Homo sapiens: one gene and its partners. The protein of the gene in region 1 purifies or fractionates together with the protein of each later gene. This does not show direct contact. Each region holds a gene or a part of one and is shown in the gene's direction. Other genes may lie near its edges.

Region 1 (7,041 bases):
GAAGAATGTAGGTTTTCACTTATTTTACTTTGATTAAAAAATAAATTATTTAAAAATACTAGTATAACTGAAAATGAAAGTTGACAATGAAATATTTGGAATTGGTGAGATAATGATAAATATTACAGATGAATGTACCTCTCTGAGTTGTTCCTATCTTTAAAGTGGTAAATGATAGTAGCTAAAATGTTTGAGATTTAAAAGAATTATCACCAAGCAAAACTGACAACACTATGCTACTGGTAGGAAACTGAATATATTCAGAAAGCCCCAAGACAGAACAGAGAGACAAAACAAGTAAAGATGTGCTAGAGCCAAACAACATAATTATTAAGGTTGTACAGATGGATAGATTTTGAATGTTATCCCTTAAAATGGAGACTACACCTAGTACCTGTGAAGCATTGACAAACATTATCCGTATATTTGCTCACAGAGGGAAGCTCAATATATTTAAAAAGGAAGAAATGGTAGAGACTTCATTTTCTGACCACAATACAGGTAGAGATTAGCAACATTTACAAATAAAGACCCTCCAAACAAAAACAGCACAGCAACAAAATACTACATATGCAACAACTTTCTCAGAATCAAATCTTGGGTCAAAGCAGAAATCAAAACCCCAAAGAGAAACTATCTAGAAAATAGTAATAGAAACATTACTGTGGTGGAAACTGTTTACTGCCTTTCTAAAGTCCATTCTCCTCTCTCTTTTTACTAACAGAACATTGATTTTGTTGCATGTTGATGACCAGCTTAAGTACCCTATTTTCCAGTCTCCCTTGCGGCTGGGGGTGGCCATATGATTAAGTTCTCACTAATAAGATATAAGGGATTATTGTTAGGTGGGGATTCCAGGAAAGCTATTTAAAAAGAAGGTTGAGTCACTTGGCCTAAGCTTTTGGGCTATGTGATGCTGGATCAGCTATCTTGTAATCATAATCATAAGCTATCTTTAATCACATGTTAAAGACAGATGAGTGGAAAGATAGAAGGGGTGCTCCTTATCCCAGGGTCTCTTTCAGTCCTAGACTTCCTATCTCTGGGGAAAAGTTCCTGTCTTAAGCTGCTATGTGGGGAGTCTATTAGTAGGAACTGACATAATTTTTAAGTGACATAGTTACAAACCACAATTTATGTGATTAAAGAATGAAAATAAACAAGTAAAGCGTCCAAGTCAAGGAGTCAGAAATAGAACAACAAAATAAAACAAAGGAAAGTGGAAGGAAATAATAAAAATCAAACTAGAACTCAGTAAAGTTGAAAATTAAAGAAAAAAATGCTTGATAAATCCAGGAGCTAGTTCTTTAGGGAAACAATTTAAAAAAATACATACACATATATATTCTACCAGTGTAATCAAGAAATAGAAGAAAACACAACATTAGATAATAAATGATTTATCCTACCCAAATTCTGCAAATAAATTTGAAAATTGGATGGAATAGATGATTTTCTTGGAAAATGTGCTAGTAGATTGACTCTAGAATAGAAAGAAAACTCAAAAAGTCTCTCAAAAGTGGAAAAAAAAAAAGACAACTGTTATTTGTGACCAGTTGCTACTGTTCTTCCTGGAGTCCCTTTGCCATTGCTGTTTTGCAAAGTGTTAGAAGTGAATTTCTGGTGAGGAACCTCGGAGTGTGAGGCAGGGTGAGCATCCTGCTTGGTGAGCTCTCTGCAGTCATCTGGCAAGGTTGGCCACACACCAGAAAGGCAACGGCAACTATTCTTGGCATCAGGACCCATCACAAAACACAGAGCCCTGAGTGTTCTTCATTTTTTAAATAATATTTTCCAGATCAATATGCTATTGAACTTTTTTGCTAAGAAGAAAAGATTGAAAATGATTTATAATCATTTAATTTCACTGTCAGTCTCACAAACAACTGATTCCTTATGGTAAAAGTGTTGGAAACATTATATTCAAATAGTAGTGTTAAAGATTTTGCAGCAAGATTGTGGGTAAAAAAGGCTGAAAGTGTTTTGAGAGGAAAATGAACTGCAGAGTAACAAAGAAAAATGGTGAGCGTCAGAATTCCTTAGCTCTTAATTATTTTCATGGAAAAGTACCTAGTTCTCAAATGCTGGTAACTGGAACATCCTATTGGTTAAAAATAAACAGCATAAAGTTTCAGGAAACCAACTAAACAGCAAAAAAAAAAAAAAAAAAAAAAAAAAAAAAGGCAACCAGAACAGCCCAAAACAGAATAACAAAGTCAGAATAATGAAGCTACGCCAAAAGTGTCAGGTCATTACACGGGTTGTCTGCCCTCAGGCCAGGGTTCAAACCCAGTGGTGACAAACTCAGTGGCCACGTGGGCTGAAGGGCATCCAGAAAGTCCTGCTGGGTCACCAGAGGGCTGCCCTTCAGCACTTGGTTCTGAGGTGTCTTTGCTGTTTAAAATGTCTTGTTTTCTTTGAACTTTGAAGTTTCCCCTTCCTAATTATTTCAGTCTTCATTTAAACAGATGTAATTCTAACCTAATGTCCTCTTTTTACCCCATCTCTCCCTGGTAGCTGGAACAGTGAACCATGGAGCTGTATTTCGGTGAATATCAACATGTGCAGCAGGAATATGGGGTCCATCTGAGACTCGCAAGTGATGATACCCAAAAATCAAGGAGTTCCCAGAACTCCAAGGCAGGCTCCTACGGTGTCAGTATTCGGGTCCAGGGAATTGATGGTCACCCCTATATTGTCCTGAATAACACAGAACGGTGCCTAGCAGGCACATCGTTTTCTGAAAATGGGCCACCCTTTCCACCTCCAGTGATAAATAACCTGCCTCTACATTCCAGCAATGGTTCTGTGCCAAAGGAGAACAGTGAAGAACTTCAGCTTCCAGAAAACCCATACGCCCAGCCTAGCCCAATAAGAAACCTGAAACAGCCCCTGCTCCATGAGGGCAAGAATGGAGTTCTAGATCGCAAAGACGGGTCTGTGAAGCCATCTCACCTGCTGAACTTTCAGAGGCATCCAGAGCTTTTGCAACCCTATGACCCTGAAAAGAATGAGTTGAATTTACAAAATCACCAGCCTTCTGAGAGTAATTGGCTAAAAACGTTGACAGAAGAAGGCATCAACAATAAGAAGCCTTGGACTTGCTTTCCCAAACCTAGCAATTCCCAGCCTACCAGTCCCTCCTTGGAAGACCCGGCCAAATCTGGTGTGACAGCTATTCGTTTATGCAGCTCCGTGGTCATAGAGGACCCCAAAAAGCAGACCTCAGTGTGTGTAAACGTTCAGAGCTGCACCAAGGAGAGGGTGGGAGAGGAGGCCCTTTTCACTAGCGGGAGGCCCCTGACTGCCCACAGCCCACATGCCCACCCTGAAACCAAGAAAACCAGGCCAGATGTTCTTCCCTTCCGGCGACAGGATTCAGCGGGACCCGTCCTGGATGGAGCTCGGTCCCGGAGGTCCTCCTCGTCATCCACAACTCCCACGTCAGCCAACTCTTTGTACAGGTTTTTACTGGATGATCAGGAATGTGCCATCCATGCCGACAACGTCAATCGTCATGAAAACAGAAGGTATATTCCCTTCCTGCCAGGAACTGGACGGGATATTGATACAGGATCAATTCCTGGTGTGGATCAGTTAATTGAAAAATTTGATCAAAAACCTGGGCTTCAGAGAAGAGGAAGGTCTGGGAAGCGAAACAGAATTAATACAGATGACAGGAAAAGATCCAGAAGCGTGGATAGCGCCTTTCCTTTTGGCCTCCAAGGGAACTCGGAGTACCTGATTGAATTCAGTAGGAACTTGGGCAAGTCAAGCGAACACCTCCTCCGGCCTTCCCAGGTGTGCCCGCAGCGGCCACTGTCTCAGGAGCGCCGTGGGAAACAGAGCGTGGGCCGCACCTTTGCAAAGCTGCAGGGAGCAGCGCACGGGGCTTCATGTGCCCACTCCAGGCCTCCCCAGCCGAACATAGATGGGAAAGTTCTGGAAACCGAAGGTAGTCAGGAAAGTACAGTGATCCGTGCGCCCTCCCTTGGTGCACAGAGTAAAAAGGAGGAGGAGGTGAAAACAGCCACCGCTACGCTGATGTTACAGAACCGGGCAACAGCAACTTCGCCTGATTCTGGTGCCAAGAAAATTTCCGTGAAGACATTTCCTTCGGCCTCAAATACTCAGGTAACACTAGTGCGATTCCTGTTTGGTTTTTTTTCTCTTCCTTCTAAATAATGTAATGATGTACTTATGCTGCAGGAGGCCATAGGAATTACACATCCTCAATCTTGTATCAGGAATCACACAGCTGATCTGTTTCAGGATCCAGTTGTGTCCTACTGACGATGTCCTACTGCCAATTGTATAGTTTTCTGGGTTCTTTGAAGTTCAGCTGGATTCCCATTGTGATCTCTCTGTAAAGTAACTTGGCAGACGCTACAGAGAGGCTCAATTGTTCTGTTTGTGTATGCATGAAATCTGAAAGTATGCAGAATTTGTTTCTACACAGAGGCTGAATAGTTAGGTTTGTGTAGGTATATTAATTTTCCTCATAAAATTGAGTGACTGGGTTAATTTCTAGCCTGAAAAATTAGGTTAATTTTCATTTAGGTTAATTGTCAAGTGAGAATCTAAGTGGCACATTTAGTGTTTTGATAGTAACAATAAAAAATAATGATATTGATAAAATGGTAAAAAAAAAAAAAAAGTAGCTAAGTGCTAGGCACTGTTTGTTATATATTACAGGATTGCACCAACCCTGTGCAGGTAGTACCTATTAACCTCAATTTACAGGTGAGAAAATTGAGGCGAGGAGAAGTTAAGTAACTTCCCCAAGATTATGAAGCTGGTAAATGTTGTAACTGGCTCTAAGAAGGATGCTCACTGGAGGAATTGTTTGGTGTTTGGAAGCCTCTGGGAACTTCATCCTCATGGTCTAACAACAGGCCTTATGTTCCAGGCCACACCGGATCTCTTAAAGGGCCAGCAAGAGCTCACTCAGCAAACCAATGAGGAGACAGCTAAGCAGATTCTCTACAATTACCTCAAAGAAGGGTTAGTGATTTTCCCTCTGAAAGAGCAAAGTATTGTTGTTTCTGGTGGGACTCTTAATTTCCTTTTCCGAGGCTTTAATGGTTACCTTCCTTTCTTGCCCTGTGCCAGCCGTTGGAGGGTTAAAACTCAATGGCTGGGGTTTTCGTGACGGCATTTGTCTTGTGTGGTATGGGGTGGGGGCTTTGGGAGGGGTGTGTAGGAAAGGACACCATACTTTAAAAATTAAAATGAATACATTTTTAAAGTGACCCTTTACTATTTCAAAAGCAAATTCAAAGATAGGAGGAGTTTCTACTCTTCAGGTTTGAATGGAGTCCGCCATCACCTTGAGTTCTTCCGTGCAATGTGGTAGTCCTTTAGAAGTTACAAATAAAAACACCTCCCCTCCCCAGAGTTAACATTGGCCAAGAGCCCCTGCTTCCATTATTTTTAAAGCATGTGTGAGTCATTTAAAAGCAGTGCTTTCCATGCTTATCTTGGTGGTTGAGGTGGAATAATCAGGGTTTCAGCCCTTACTTAGATACTAACTGTGCTGGAACTTGAGCAAGGAATTTGAGGTTTCTGTTTCAGTTCTCTCAACAGATGTGATTAAGAGGAAGGACAAAAAAAAAAAAAAAAGCTTTACAGCCTACATGACTGAAAACCAGCCACTTGGCAAATCCTCATTGGTATCAAAATACTGTATATTTTTGTATTGTGCCTTACAATTATTTGTCAGTTTTAGAGCTAACAACATAGTAAGGCTCAAAATATAAAACAGGGGATCTTTTGAAAGGGGGAAAAAAAAAGTAACCTGAAAGATTAATCTAGCTAAGAACTGGTTATTAGTATCTCCCTGTGGAAGACTTTACCATGTTAAGATTAAGGTAGAAGAAATCTTGACTTTTAAAATTCATTATTTTTTTTTTATTTTTTGGGACAGAGTCTCACTCTGTCATCCAGGCTGGAATGCGGTGGCATGATCTTGGCTCACTGCAACCCCCACCTCCCAGGTTCAAGAGATTCTCCTGCCTCAGCCACCTGAGTAGCTGGGATTATAGGTGTGCGCCACCATGTCTGGCTAATTTTTGTATTTTTAGTAGAGACACAGTTTCATCATATTGGCAAGGATAATCTCAAACTCCTGACCTCAAGTGATCCACCAGCATCTGCCTCCCAAAGTGCTGAGATGACAGACGTGAGCCACCGCACCTGGCCAAAATTCATTAAATTCTTTTATGTATGTATTTTTTGGCACATGATTTATTGAGACATTGGTAAGACAGACTTTAGTGGGAGGTGCCTGTTGAAGGAAGTTTATTTTAAATCTTTTTCTTCTAATTGCTGACGGTGTGGTAGAAGTTAATAAAACTTAGTATCTCCGTGTTACCTGTGAAAGCCCAGACAAAGGGCTGCCATGCTGATAATCTTGGCTTAGGGGTTTTATTTTTTTAAACATAGGTTAAACAAATTAAGATCATTGTAGATCATTCTTAGTGTAAGATTCAGATGTACAGCATGTTTGTGTGTGTGAGAGAGATATACACATACGCACTTCAAAGAAAAGGAGAATTCTTTTTGGAATGGACATGAGCATTTGAATCAAACAACAAATTACTAAATGTTCACTGGGTGTCTTCTCCAAGCTTACTGAGGATGTGTTTATGTGCCTCTCACATATTTGCAAGTGGGAACCCTGTCCCAAATTGAGTGGTAACACATCATTTATTTGAAAAAAAAAAAAAAAAAAAAAGACACCATCCATCCTACTCTCACACTGATTTTGTCTGAGGCTTTAATTAATTCACAGCTCCTGCAAATTATCTCCTTAAAGGACCTGTTGGGTGTGTGTCATGACATATAAATTGTTCTGAGACCAGTGGTTGTGTCCCTCATTGTTTTCTCTGCTGTCCCTTTTTCAGAAGCACTGATAATGACGATGCTACTAAAAGGAAAGTCAACTTGGTCTTTGAGAAAATCCAGACCTTAAAGTCTCGAGCAGCTGGGAGCGCCCAAGGAAATAACCAAGTAAATGGAAGTTTTGTATTTTGTAGAGTG
Region 2 (7,041 bases), on another chromosome or scaffold:
AGTTTTCCACATTCGTGAATGATGGTGTGCATCTTTGAACATGGGTCCTTGCCTGCCTAAGTATTTTTGTAGGTTGATCATTGTAAACTTGGAAAGCACAAAGACAGAAGCCAGGCTTGCTGACTCTTGACTGATGTTGCCCCAGTGATGTCACTCCTGCAAAATGCAAAGCCTGCGTCCTGGCTGTCGGAGCATGTGTGGACATTTGGCAGCTTCTTTCTCTTCCCTCCTGCTCTTCTGTTTGTTTTGATTGGGAAGGATATGGAGTGGGGATGGAGAAGGGTGTTGAGTAATTATCGATGGTTTCTGTATGTTTATTGCTCCTGACTAGCAGTGCTGGGTTTCTTCTCTCAGAGGAAAGCTGAAAGAGATTGCTTTGCTTTTTTCCAGAGTTTTAAAATCAGAGGTGTGTGTCTCGAGTGTATTTTCAGACTTTTTTGTTAGCTTTAATCATGTAAAACATGCAAAAAAAAAAAAAGCATGTGGAAACAATTTTTTTTTTTTGAGACGGGTTCTCGCTCTGTCACACAGGCTGGAGTGCTGTGGGGCGATCTCGGCTCACTGCAACCACCGCCTCCCATGCTCAAGTGATCCTCCCACCTCAGCCTCCTGAGTAGCTGGGACCACAGGTGTGCATCACCACACCTGGCTAATTTTTTTGTGTTTTTGGTAGAGATGGGGTTTCACCATGTTGCCCAGGCTGGTCTCTTATCTGCTGACCTCAGGTGATCTGCCTGCCTCACCCTCCCAAAGTGCTGGGATTACAGGCATGAGCCACCACACCCGGCCGGAAACAAATTTTTGAAGGAGGCATAGATCTCTGTTGTGCAAAATAGATACTTTTTGTACCACTGGGTCCTAGTTTGTCATTGTTCCTTGCATGATCCCATCAGATTTGTCTACAGAGCTGCTGGGGCATGATGGTGTGGTGGCGTATTAAGAACGCAGGTTAGTGGCACACAGATGAAATAAATGCATGTGGGGTGCATTTTTAAGATAGCAGGTGCAAAGTTGTATATACTGAGACCAGGCATTAACACTTGCCTATTACAGTGCCTTTTAAAACACTATGTGAGGGCCGGGTGCAATGGCTCACACCTGTAATCCCAGCACTTTGGGAGGCCTAGGTGGGCAGATCACCTGAGGTCAGGAGATCGAGACCAGCCTGGCCAACGTGGCGAAACCCCGTCTCTCCTAAAAATACAAAAAATTAGCCAGTCGTGGTGGCATGCACCTGTAATCCGAGGTACTAGGGACGCTGAGGTAGGAGAATCGCTTGAAGCTGCGAGGCAGAGGTTGCAGTGAGCTGAGATCACACCACTGCACTCCAGCCTGGGCAACAGAGAAAGAGATTCCGACTCAAAAAAAAAAAAAACAAAAAAAAAAAAAACAAAACTGGACCAAATGAAACAAGTGAATCTGATCTGCAGTCAGTCAGTTTGCAACCCCTGGGAAGCCTTGGACTTGAATGCAAAGATCCCTTGAACTTGGATCTAGTTTGCCTCTGCTGCTCACATGCACATTTAGAGATGGCCAAGGCATACGGTGTTTCTGCTTCCAAGAAACAGAGTGGTTGTCCTGTTTAGCCATCTCTTACAGTCACACAGCTTAAAGAAGATAATGTTTGCAAACAATTTTTGAAATGTCTAGCACACAGCAAACAGAAGGTCAAATTCAGTACTTAATGCTGATAAAATAAGAGAACCCTTGCAAGTCATGTTGCCTGCTTTCTGCCACAGAGAGTACTGCAATAGAACTTTCTGACGTTTTCATGTTGTTTATTTATTTATTTTTTGAGACAGAGTCTTGCTCTTGTGCCCAGGCTGGAGTGCAGTGGTACAATTTCTGCTCACTGCAACCTCTGCCTCTGGGTTCAAGCAATTCTTGGGCCTCAGCCACCCAAGTAGCTGGAATTATAGGTGCGCTCTACCACACCTGGCTAATTTTTGTGTTTCTAGTAGAGACAGGGTTTCACCATGTTGCCCAGGCTGGTCTTGAACCCCTGGGCTCAAGCAATCCACCCACCTCAGCCTCCCAAAGTGCTGGGACTACAGGCGTGCATCGTGACGCCCTGCTGATTTGTGTATTTTTAGTAGAGACGGGGTTCACCTTGTGCTGGTCTCAAACTCCTGGGCTCAAGCAATCTGCCCACCTCAGTCTGCCAAAGTGCTGGGATTACAGGCGTGAGCCATCGTGCCCGGCCTCTCTCTGACATTTTTGAATGGCAAAGGCAAAAATCTTATACTTTTAAGGATGTGGAGAAATAGGAACACTTTTACACTGTTGGTGGGACTGTAAACTAGTTCAACCATTGTAGAAGTCAGTGTGGTGATTCCTCAGGGATCTAGAACTGGAAATACCATTTGACCCAGCCATCGCATTACTGGGTATATACCCAAAGGACTATAAATCATGCTTCTATAAAGACACATGCACACGTATGTTTATTGCGGCATTATTCACAATAGCAAAGACTTGGAACCAACCCAAATGTCCAGCAATGATAGACTGGATTAAGAAAACGTGGCACATATACACCATGGAATACTATGCAGCCATAAAAAATGATGAGTTCATGTCCTTTGTAGGGACATGGATGAAATTGGAAATCATCATTCTCAGTAAACTATTGCAAGAACAAAAAACCAAACACCGCATATTCTCACTCATAGGTGGGAATTGAACAACGAGAACACATGGACACAGGAAGGGGAACATCACACTCTGGGGACTGTTGTGGGGTGGGGGGAGGGGGGAGGGATAGCATTGGGAGATATACCTAATGCTAGATGACGAGTTAGTGGGTGCAGCACACCAGCATGGCACATGTATACATATGTAACTAACCTGCACATTGTGCACATGTACCCTAAAACTTAAAGTATAATAATAATAAAGAAAAAGAAAAAAAAAGATTGCTGTTTTATGATAAAGTGAAGTGCAGCTGTTACTTCTTCCTTCTTTGCTTCCAGCATCTCTCTTCCCTAAGGATTGCTTTTAAAATGTAAGAGTTTTTGGTTGAAATGCTGTTCCTGTGGTTTTTGTCTCTTGGTTGGAGTGAAAGATTTTGCAGGCTGTGATACAAATCCAGTTCTCTGCTTATTTTCTCCTCAGTCCTTGAAATCCAAAACCAGATCCCTCCCATTGGCCCGTTGTAATTAGAACCTGCCCCACAATAGACGCACCTCCTAAAGCATCTCAGATTCATTTCTTTCCTGAGGATTAAGTTTTTAAACCTTCCTGGCCAAGATAACAGTGTTTTAAGAGGCTCTTTTCTTTTATTATTATTATTATTATTATTACTCTTTTCTTTTTTTGAGATGGAGTCTTGCTCTGTCACCCAGGCTGGAGTGCAGTGGCAGGATCTCTGCTCACTGGAACCTCCACCTCCCGGGTTCAAGAGTTTCTTCTGTTTCAGCCTCCTGAGTAGATGGGATTACAGGCATGTGCCACCATGCCCAGCTAATTTTTGTATTTTTAGCAGAGATGGGGTTTTACCATGTTGGCCAGGCTGGTCTCGAACTCCTGGCTTCAAGTGATCTACCCGCTGTGGCCTCCCAAAGTATCAGGATTACAGGCATGAGCCACAGCACCCTGCCAGGCTTGGGTGTTCAAGGAAGAGAAAGAAGGCAGTGTGGCTGGGACATAAGTGAATGAGAGGTGGTAGGGTAAGAAATGTGTAGAAAACTATGCAGGGGCCTGATCACATTGGATCTTGCACATCTTTTTCCAAACCTCAGGAGGAGTCATTCTGCTTTTGTTGTTACTGGTTCCTCACTTCCGCACTTTATTGTATGCTGACAACCTTCCATACCATGGGACTGAGACTGCCCTCAATAGTATCACCAATGTCTTTTTTTGTTTTTTTTTTTTGAGGCAGAGTTTCACTCTTGTCGTCCAGGTTGGAGTGCAATGGCGTGATCTTGGCTCACTGCAACCTCCGCCTCCTGGGTTCAAGCGATTTTCCTGCCTCAGTCTTCCGAGTAGCTGGGGTTACAGGAGCCTGCCACCACACCTGGCTAATTTCTTGTATTTTTAGTGGAAATGGAGTTTCACCATGTTGGCCAGGCTGGTCTTGAACTCCTGACCTCAGGTGAACCACCCGCCTTGGCTTCCCAAAGTGTTGGGATTACAGGCATGAGCCAACGCACCCAGCCACCAATATCTTAATGGCCACACAGTGCTCATTGATAGATGCCTTGGCCCTGGGCTATTGTTGCTATAGAATTGGTTTGATGAGTACATATTACATGAGATCTGGGCTCATTAGAGCTTATGGCTTGAGCAGGGACTCCTTGGCCTAGGTTTATGCTGCTCCTGGCCTTGTTAATGACTGCTATTAACACTCTACCCCCTTTTTATTTTTTTGAGATGGGGTCTTGTTCTGTCGCCCAGGCTGGGAGGCTGGAATGCAGTGATCTTGGCTCACTGCAGCCTCCGCTTCTCAGGCTTAAGTGATTTTTCCTGCTTCATCCTTCTGAGTAGCTGGGACTACAGGCACGCACCGCCGTGCCCGTTTGATTTTTGTTTTTGTTTTTTTAGTAGACACGGGGTTTCACCATGTTGCCCAGGCTGGTCTCAAACTCCTGACCTCAAGTGATCTGTCTGCCTCGGCCTCACAAAGGGCTGGGATTACAGGCATGAGCCATTGCGCCAGGCACCACTCTACCCTTTTGACTTTGAGCAAGTAAGGTCGTTGATTCCATACATTCATTAAGATTCCTGCGTGGCAGAAATCTAACCCCAACTGGTATAACCAAGACAAGGAATTGATTATCTCATAACCTTAAATCAGGTGTGGCTGCATCTAGGTGTTCAAATGATATTGTCAGGACCCAGGCTCTCCATCCCTTGGCCCAGCTTTCCTCTGTTTTGGCTTCACTCTGAGGCAGGCTCTCCCTTGTGATAGCAAGATGACCACCGGCAGTTTCAGGCTTACCTCCGGCTTCAGGCTTACCTCCAGCTTCAGGCTTACCTTACCAACCCTAGTGGAAAGAGAGTTTCATTTTTGACAGCTATGCAAAAGGTCTGGACCTGGGCCCTCACTGGCTTAGTATGGGTTAGGCCCATCCTTAAGCCAATCATTGGCTCAGCATGGGTTAGATCCGTGACTGTCACTGGCTGAGCATGGGGGTTAGGCTCACCCTATCATTGGCTCTGCGTGAATTAGGCCCACCTCTGTCACTGGCTCATCGTGGGTTAGGCCCACCCATGAGCTGATCACTAAGGTCGTGAATAGGCATATGCCTCTTCCCAGGTGTGGAGGATGATGTCAGATCCCTCTGAACTCATGAAATGAGTAGGGTATTCTCCCAAGGGAATATTGTGCTGTCACAGAAGATGGAAAAATGAATGCATGTCTGGAAAAAACAAGCAAAACTACAAATCATTAGCTTTATATGACATTTATTTATTTTTTGTTTATATGTTTTTGAAATGGAGTCTTGCTCTGTTGCCCAGGCTGGAGTGCAGTGGTGTGATCGTGGTTCACTGCAACCTCTGGCTCCCGGGTTCAAGCGATTCTCATGCCTTAGCCTCCCGAGTAGTTGGGATCATAGGTGCCTGCCACCACACCCAGCTAATTTTTGTGCTTTTAGTGTAGACAGGATTTTACCATGTTGGCCAAGCTTGTCTTGAACTCTTGACCTCAAGTCATCTGCCTGCCTCAGCTTCCCAAAGTGTTGAGATTACAGGCATGAGCCACCACGTCTGGCCAGCTTTGTATGACATTTCGCCTTTCTGCCTTGATCAAACTTTCAGAGAATCTGCTTTCCAGAGGGATGAGTGGGTCGGGAAATAGCATGTTTTCTCTGAATGAGGGAAAGGATTGAAAAAGTAGGAGGGAGAAAGGATGTGAATATGAGTCCCAACAAATGCAGAGTTATCGGTAAGTTTTGTGCTTGAATCTAGGTACAATTGTGCATTTCCTGGTTCTGCATGAATTAGGCCCACCTCTGTCATTGGCTCAACATGGGTGAGGCTCACTAACTTCCACCAGAAGTTAGTGGTGGTGTCTGTGTTGACACTTACATGTTTAGCCTAATGATTTCATGTTTTAACCAAAACTATATAGCTTGTTGGTTATATCTTAGAAAGTGATGGTTTTTGCTCATTCTTTTGTCCCCAGGGATACACACCAGCCTCTAAGTTCTCTTGAGGGAAGGAAGGGACCTTGCACACAATCTTTTTTTTTTTTTTTTTTTTTTTTTTTTTGAGAGGAAGTCTCACTCTGTCACCCAGGCTGGAGTGCAGTGGTGCGATCTCGGCTCACTACAACCTCTGCCTTCTGGGTTCAAGTGATTCTCCCGCCTCAGCCTCCCGAGTAGTGGGGATTACAGGCGCACACCACCATGCCCGGCTAATTTTTATATTTTTAGTAGAGATGGGGTTTCAGTGTGTTGGCCAGGCTGGTTTCAGACTCCTGAGCTCAGGTGATTCACCTGCCCTGGCCTCCCAAAGTACTGGGATTACAGGTGTGAGCCACTGCGCCCGGCCTTGGACACAATCTTTTTTTTTTTTTTTTTTGAGACGGAGTCTCGCTCTGTCACTCAGGCTGGAGTGCAGTGGCACGATCTCAGCTCATTGCAACCTCCACCTCCTGGGTTCAAGCAATTCTCCTGCCTTAGCCGCCTGAGTAGCTGGGACTACAGGTACCTGCCACTGCGCCCGCCTAATTTTTGTATTTTTAGTAGAGATGGGGTTTCACCATATTGGCCAGGCTGGTCTCAAACTCCTGACCTTGTGATCTGCCCGCCTCGGCCTCCCAAAGTGCTGGGATTACAGATGCGAGCCACTGAGTCTGGCCTGGACACAATCTTACTTGGATTCCTCATGCCCTTTTGACAAGCTCAGAGCCTCAAATAAATTCAGAAAATAGGTGATTACATCAAACAGCCTCTATCAACAGGGAGTATACAAACCGTTAGCCCAACTGTTAATAGAAGTCTGCTTTCTTGCTGGGTGTGGTGGCTCACACCTAGAATCCTAGTGCTTTGGGAGTACAAGGCAGGAGGATCGCTTGAGCCCAGGAATTTGAGACCA
Region 3 (7,041 bases), on another chromosome or scaffold:
GAGTGAGACTCTGTCTTACAAAAATAAAATAAAAATAAACCAGCAAGTCACATTAAGGAAAAGAGGGATAAGAACAGTAGACTGGTACAGTGGCTCATGCCTGTATTTCCAGCATTTTGGAAGGCTGAGGGCTGGAGAATTGCTTGAGGCCAGGAGTTTGAGACCAGCCTGGGCAACATATCAAGACCCCATCTCTATAAACAAATTGAAAAATTAGCTAGGCATGGTGGTGGTGCACACCGGTAATCCCAGCTACTCAGGAAGATGAGGCAGGAGGATTGATTGAGCCCAGGAGTTTGAGATTATAGCGAGCTATGATCATGCCACTCCACTCTAGCCTGGACAGCGGAGCGAGACTTGATCTCTTAAAAAGAAAAGAAAAAAAAATTAAATCAATCAGTAATTATGGTGTAGGTCAAAGACTGTTCTCTCTACCAAAGTATATTAAAGTCAAAAACATAACCCCAGTGATAGGTAGAAAAATCAATATTTGTGTATTTTAAATATGTCTTAGCAGAAAATATTTCTGAATTTTTTACGTGTTTGTTGTATTTAGTTTTCTGAAAATGGTAACCAGAAGAATTTGAGAATTCTAAGCTTGGAGTTGATGAAACTTAGAAACAAAAGAGAAACAAAGATGAGGGTGAGTGCTGCCCTTGGCAGGTTTGCTGTGTCTGGATCTGGGGATCAGTACAACTTTCTCATTTCCTAAAACAGGTATCTTTGTTGTGTAGGGTATGATGGCTAAGCAAGAAGGCATGGAGATGAAGCTGCAGGTCACCCAAAGGAGTCTCGAAGAGTCTCAAGGGAAAATAGCCCAACTGGAGGGAAAACTGTAAGTGAGTGAATGTGAAGAGAAATTGTTAAGTGGAAGCAATTCTTGATTTGAGTCTCTTCACAAATTATTGTTTACTGAGACTTCAACCTTCTGTTAGTACTTATCTCATTGCCTCCCTCCAGTTGCCCTATTTCTCTTTTTAAACTAGAATGAGCCCTAATCATTCTCAAACATGTTGTGCTACAAAGTTGTATGAGTGCATTACTTTTGTACATCTTCTGTATTATTAATGATGAGGAAAGATTTCATGATCTTATGAAAGTGGTCATTAGATTGAAATTGAGAAACACTGGTATAGGAAATTGTGATTTATGCACAATCCTAGCCTTTGATTTTGAGCTTTAATATACATATAATAAAATGTGTGGATAGTAAGTATTCAGTTTGGTGACTTTAGCAATTGTATACACCTACGTAACCACTACCAAACAAGATAGAGAACATTTTCATCCCTTCAGAAAGTTCCTTCATACCCCTTCTTGTCCCCCTGCTACTGCCTATGTCATGTCCCCATCCCCATAACTACTTTCTCACTTACATCATCATAAATTAGCTTTGCCTTTTTTTATTTATTATTATTATTATTTATTTTTTTTTTTAGAGATGGGGCATTGCTTTGTTACTCAGGCTGGTCTCATACTCCTGGACTCAAGTGATACCACCCTGGCCTTCAGAGTGCTGGAGTTATAGACATGGGCCACTATACCTGGCCAGTTTTGCCTTTTTTTAGGACATGCAAAAGAGAAAGAGCATGTGTGTGTGTTGCTTCTTTTGTTTGATGTAATTTTTCAAGATTCATCCAAACCGTTCTGTATACTGTAATTTTTCCTATTTTATTTCTGAGTAGTGGTTCACCTTATGAATATACCTCCATCTCTTTACTCTTCTCCTTTTGATCATTATTTGGGCTGTTGCCAGTGTCTGCCATTAAAAAGACTGCTGTGAACATGTTTTATGTTTTTTTATGGACACGTTTTTATTTCTCAGAGAAATTTCTAGGAGTAGAATTCTTGGGTAATAGGGTAGTGTATATATAATGTTTTTTAAAACTCAGAAGTGTTTTTGCCATTTTTATACACCCCCTGGCAATGTATGATAGTTTCAGTTGTTCCAGATTCTCACCAACATTTAATGTTGTCAGTCTGTTTGATTTTAGCCTTTCTACTAGGTAGGAAGTGGTATCTCCTTTGTGATTTTAATTTGTTACCATGAATGTTGACCTTATTTTTATGTGCTTATTGACCATTTTATGTGCATATCACCTTTTGCAAGGTGTCTATTGAAGTCTTTTGTCCATTTCTTGCATTGGACAGTTTGGTGGAGGTAAACAGATAAGTAATTGAAGACCAGGTAGTCTGGGACAAAAGCTTTATGGGCACACAAAATGCTATTTAGTATGTTGGATGGGTGGGGAAACCAGGAAGACCACAAAAAGAATATTATTTCTAACACTTGGGATACTGTAATGATGGTTCTTGTCATCATAGGTTTTTTTGTCAGTATATATTCAGAAAACTTTCTCACTTAAATAAAAATTTTAGTCTTCTATTTTGATGTAAATTGTGAATTTGAGAAATTACATAAAATAATAGTTAAGAGTTAGGGCTCTGTAGTCAGCCTGCCTGATACAGGAGTATCTGGTACATAAGCATTATGTAAGATTATTAAATAACGAAACTAGAATGTATTAACATATGCAATTTTTGTTTTAGTGTTTCAATAGAGAAAGAAAAGATTGATGAAAAATCTGAAACAGAAAAACTCTTGGAATACATCGAAGAAATTAGGTAATATGAGCAGTAGCTTTAAATTGAACCTTATTTTTTTAATACTCAGTCATTTTCATCATTTTTCTGTTATTTTCCCTGTGCCTAAATAGATGTGCTTTTTAAGATAATTTGTTTTAATGCAGTTGTGCTTCAGATCAAGTGGAAAAATACAAGCTAGATATTGCCCAGTTAGAAGAAAATTTGAAAGAGAAGAATGATGAAATTTTAAGCCTTAAGCAGTCTCTTGAGGAGAATATTGTTATATTATCTAAACAAGTAGAAGATCTAAATGTGAAATGTCAGCTGCTTGAAAAAGAAAAAGGTATTACAGTGTTTTATAGTTACTTTGTTTAGATAAGTGTTACATACAACATTTAGGAAAAATACTACTATGCTAAAACAACCTTTTAAATATAATTAGCTATACTAACATTTTAAATATAATTAGCTATATAGCTATACAACAGCAAAAACCTGTACTGCATTTTAGAATATTTTACTCTTATAATGTTTGTTTTCTGTTTATTTCAATACAGCATATTACCTGTCTTGATTGAAATATATACAGTCATATAATTCTTGACTTTTCCACTAGGTGGCTGTGTAACAATCAGTAGATAACACAGAACAAGATTTGTGGGTTTTATTATTTAGCACATAGTATATATTACATGGAGTAATGATACAAAGTTCACAGTTTTGTTTTCTTCTTTGGAAATACCATGCTAAAAGCAGTGTAATGGAATATTATGGGAGTCCAGGTTTCTCAGTCTTAATGTTCTTATCTAATTCCAGTATTCTTGATGTTTTGCGTTTTCTAGAAGACCATGTCAACAGGAATAGAGAACACAACGAAAATCTAAATGCAGAGATGCAAAACTTAAAACAGAAGTTTATTCTTGAACAACAGGAACGTGAAAAGCTTCAACAAAAAGAATTACAAATTGATTCACTTCTGCAACAAGAGAAAGTAATTTACCACCATATTTTTTTAAACTGTTCATTTTGTGTCATACATTTCCCTATGTCTCTGAACACCTTTAAATTGTGTATATCCTTTGATCTACCAATTCTATCTTTAGAGTCTTATCCTGAGGACATAATCATGGATATGCTGAGGATTTAGCTACGTATTTTCACTACATGTTCACCCTAGGGTTATGAATAATGTGGGAAAATGACAACAGATACAGCAAAATAGGGAATTTTTAAAAAATTTTCTGGCTCATTCTTGTGTTATTTAGGCTATATAAACATTTACACTTACCTTGTAAAAGACTGTCTAATTACAGAAGAAACAAAGCAATTTTTAAAATCCAGATTATTTATAGAACATTTTACATATCAGTGAGAAGAAAGAAAGTCCACTGAAAAATTATGGGCATAGGATGGAAACAGAGAAGGAGAAGTTCTGGCCTGTAAATATAGAAAGATACTCCACCTTAGTAGTAACCAAGGAAGTAGAAATAATATTTTTTTCACTTACAAAATTGGCACAAATTAAAACATTTGATAACACAAAATACTGGTGAGAGTTAAGCCAACAGGTACTTACATGCACTGATGTGAAATATTATAGTGTTGGACAACCTACAACAGCTAAAGGAATTGAGTAGATCTATATACACTGACCTGGAAAGATTTCAGCAACAGAGTATATATCATTTATATCCCTCCCCAAATGTATATGTATATATAAGTGTAAAGAAAAATACCAGAAGGCATATATATTCCAAACTAGTAGCTATCTCTGCAATGGGAAAACTAAAATTAGGGGGGGAAGTCGTCAAAGATAATATTAACATCATTTGTAATGTTAGAATTATTTCACAATGGTGATGTATTTGTATATTGTATAGCTTAAAAAATAATTTTATGTAATATGGAAATCACCACACACTTTTTACATAATATGTGAAAAATAATGTTAATATCAAAGCCAGTTGTAAAACAGATATATATATATAAAATATAATTTTAGATTAAGAAGTTTCTGCATGTGCGTTGCATAGAAAAAAGCCTAAGATGATATTTGCCACAATGTTAACAAGGTATAGGAAATAATCTATGAAAACAAATATGCTATTTCTATATTGTTTTAAGTTTCCTTGAATCTGTTGAATTTAGGTTTCATCCTTCTTTATCTGTACTTTTTTTTGTCTCCTAGTACAACCTCACAATGCCATTCCAAATTATTTTGGTGGTTTTCTGTTTGGATATAGGAATTATCTTCGAGTCTTCATCAGAAGCTCTGTTCTTTTCAAGAGGAAATGGTTAAAGAGAAGAATCTGTTTGAGGAAGAATTAAAGCAAACACTGGATGAGCTTGATAAATTACAGCAAAAGGAGGAACAAGCTGAAAGGCTGGTCAAGCAATTGGAAGAGGAAGCAAAATCTAGAGCTGAAGAATTAAAACTCCTAGAAGAAAAGCTGAAAGGGTTTGTATTAATAGGATCTCATGTTTATGTATGACTTCAGATGTATTTATTTTGAGTACTTTTTTTAGTATTCTCTTATCAATCATGTGAGCGTGTTAGGTTGGAATTATTTTATAATTAAGTAGTAATTATTAATTATTTTACAATTAAGTAGTAGACACAGAATGTGAACACAAAATGTACATGCAAACAAGTAAGACAGCCCCCTCTTTTAAGTTAAAAGTTAAAGGTTTTGCCCCCTTTTTTTAAGGCCAAAGAGAGTTTAAATAAACAAATGACAAAAGTTTTACACTTCTTTACTACTCTGCTAATTTCTGAAATTTATTGAACATCAGCATTAGAACAATAATCAACTCAGGGCTGGATGTGGTGGCTGATGCCTGCAATTCCCATACTTTGGGATGCCAAGGTGAGAGGACTGCTTGAGCTCAGGAGTTTGAGACCAGCCTGTGCAATATAGTGAGACCTCGTCTCTACTAAAAATTAAAAAAAAAACTAGCTGGGCACGGTGGTGTGTGCCTGTAGTCCCAGCTACTTAGAAAGTTGTGGGAGGAGAATCACTTAAGCCCACGAGATTAAGGCTGCAGTTAGCCGTGATCACGTCACTGCACTCTAGCCTGAGCAACAGAGTGAGACTCTGTCTCAAAAACAAACAAAACACAATAATGAACTTGGGGGAAAAAAATAAAGAATCCCTCCCATTAATAAATAGCATTCCCATTTTTGTCTATGCACTTACATAGTGTAAGTTATACCTTTAATTACATTTTTCCGGGAGCACAAACACTTCAGAAATAGCAATCAAAATGCAAAGCAGGCTGGCACAATGGCACATGCCTAAAGTCCCAGCTACTCAGGAGGCTGAGATGGGAGGATCTTTAGAGCCCAGGAGTTTGAGGCTGTAATGCTCAACGATTATACCTGTTAATAGCCATGGCACTCTAGCCTGGGCAACGTAGCACAAGATGCCACCTCAATCAATAACTGATAAAAAGCAAATGAGAAAAAATAATTATAACTGGGAAACATTCAGAAGTAAGAAATCTCTTATTTACAGTAGAAAGACTGAAATCTTGGCTGGGTGCGGTGGCTCACACCTGTAATCCCACCACTTTGGGAAGCCAAGGCAGCGAGATCACAAGGTCAGGAGTTCGAGACCAGCCTGGCCAACATGGTGAAACCCCATCTCTACTAAAAATACATAGTAAATTAGCCTGGCATCGTGGCGCACGCCTGTAATCCCAGCTATTCAGGAGGCTGAGGCAGGAGAATTGCTTGAACCCAGGAGGCGGAGGTTGTGGTGAGCTGACATCGCACCACTGCACTCCAGCCTGGGCGACAGAGGGAGACTGTGTCCCAAAAACAAAAGAAAAACTGAAATCTCACTTTTTTCCCGAACTCTAGTTCCTTATAATTTCTGCCACATTATGTTTCCTTCTCCCATACACTTATTTATTTCATTTTGTTTTGTTTTGTCCATAGTAATTGCTAATTTTTTATTTATTAAGAGAAACTATTCCTTAGCCTACATATTCATATTTCATAGTTCAGGAACACAGGTTAGTGACAAACACTACTACATTTATTTAAATTAAAAAGTCTGATTTGATTCTTGAGTTCAAATTGCAAATATTTAAATCCTTGGGATCTGATCATTAAAACACTTGTTGTCAAAGGACTGTGGGCTAGATATGAGTTTGTATTATTGTAATATATCTCACACCTGTGTATCTGTCTCAGTGGATACTTTTGTTATTAATCTTTTCTGTTTTCTTATGATTAGTGATGCAAATGAACAGCAAGGTTTTTCATATCCCTGCTTTTGGGGGAACAATACAAAATTGTAATTAGGGGTGTTGTTCTATACTACAGCCAATCTCAGGGAACAGGAATCTTGGGAAAATAAGATAATGTCATTTTAAGAGAGGAAAGAAAATTGAGATAATTTTTTATTCCAACTCAAAAAACTGTGGTCCAATGGTCAAGAGATAAGGATT

What was found. Proteins that work in one complex are often made in the same cells at the same time.
Region 2: the proteins of CGNL1 (region 1) and NDE1 purify together in Homo sapiens (affinity purification with mass spectrometry; 2 studies listed by BioGRID and IntAct, with this or other methods). This does not show direct contact.
Region 3: the proteins of CGNL1 (region 1) and HMMR purify together in Homo sapiens (affinity purification with mass spectrometry; 2 studies listed by BioGRID and IntAct, with this or other methods). This does not show direct contact.

What each region holds. Positions count from the first base shown.
Region 1 is NC_000015.10:57,435,468-57,442,508, forward strand, and holds part of CGNL1 (cingulin-like protein 1), read left to right. Parts: intron 1-2,517; 5' UTR 2,518-2,532; coding exon 2,533-4,134; intron 4,135-4,909; coding exon 4,910-5,004; intron 5,005-6,905; coding exon 6,906-7,011; intron 7,012-7,041. UniProt on the Homo sapiens protein: May be involved in anchoring the apical junctional complex, especially tight junctions, to actin-based cytoskeletons.
Region 2 is NC_000016.10:15,653,242-15,660,282, forward strand, and holds part of NDE1 (nuclear distribution protein nudE homolog 1), read left to right. Parts: intron 1-7,041. UniProt on the Homo sapiens protein: Required for centrosome duplication and formation and function of the mitotic spindle. Essential for the development of the cerebral cortex.
Region 3 is NC_000005.10:163,470,629-163,477,669, forward strand, and holds part of HMMR (hyaluronan mediated motility receptor), read left to right. Parts: intron 1-556; coding exon 557-643; intron 644-734; coding exon 735-835; intron 836-2,550; coding exon 2,551-2,625; intron 2,626-2,750; coding exon 2,751-2,929; intron 2,930-3,428; coding exon 3,429-3,577; intron 3,578-4,829; coding exon 4,830-5,044; intron 5,045-7,041. UniProt on the Homo sapiens protein: Receptor for hyaluronic acid (HA). Involved in cell motility. When hyaluronan binds to HMMR, the phosphorylation of a number of proteins, including PTK2/FAK1 occurs.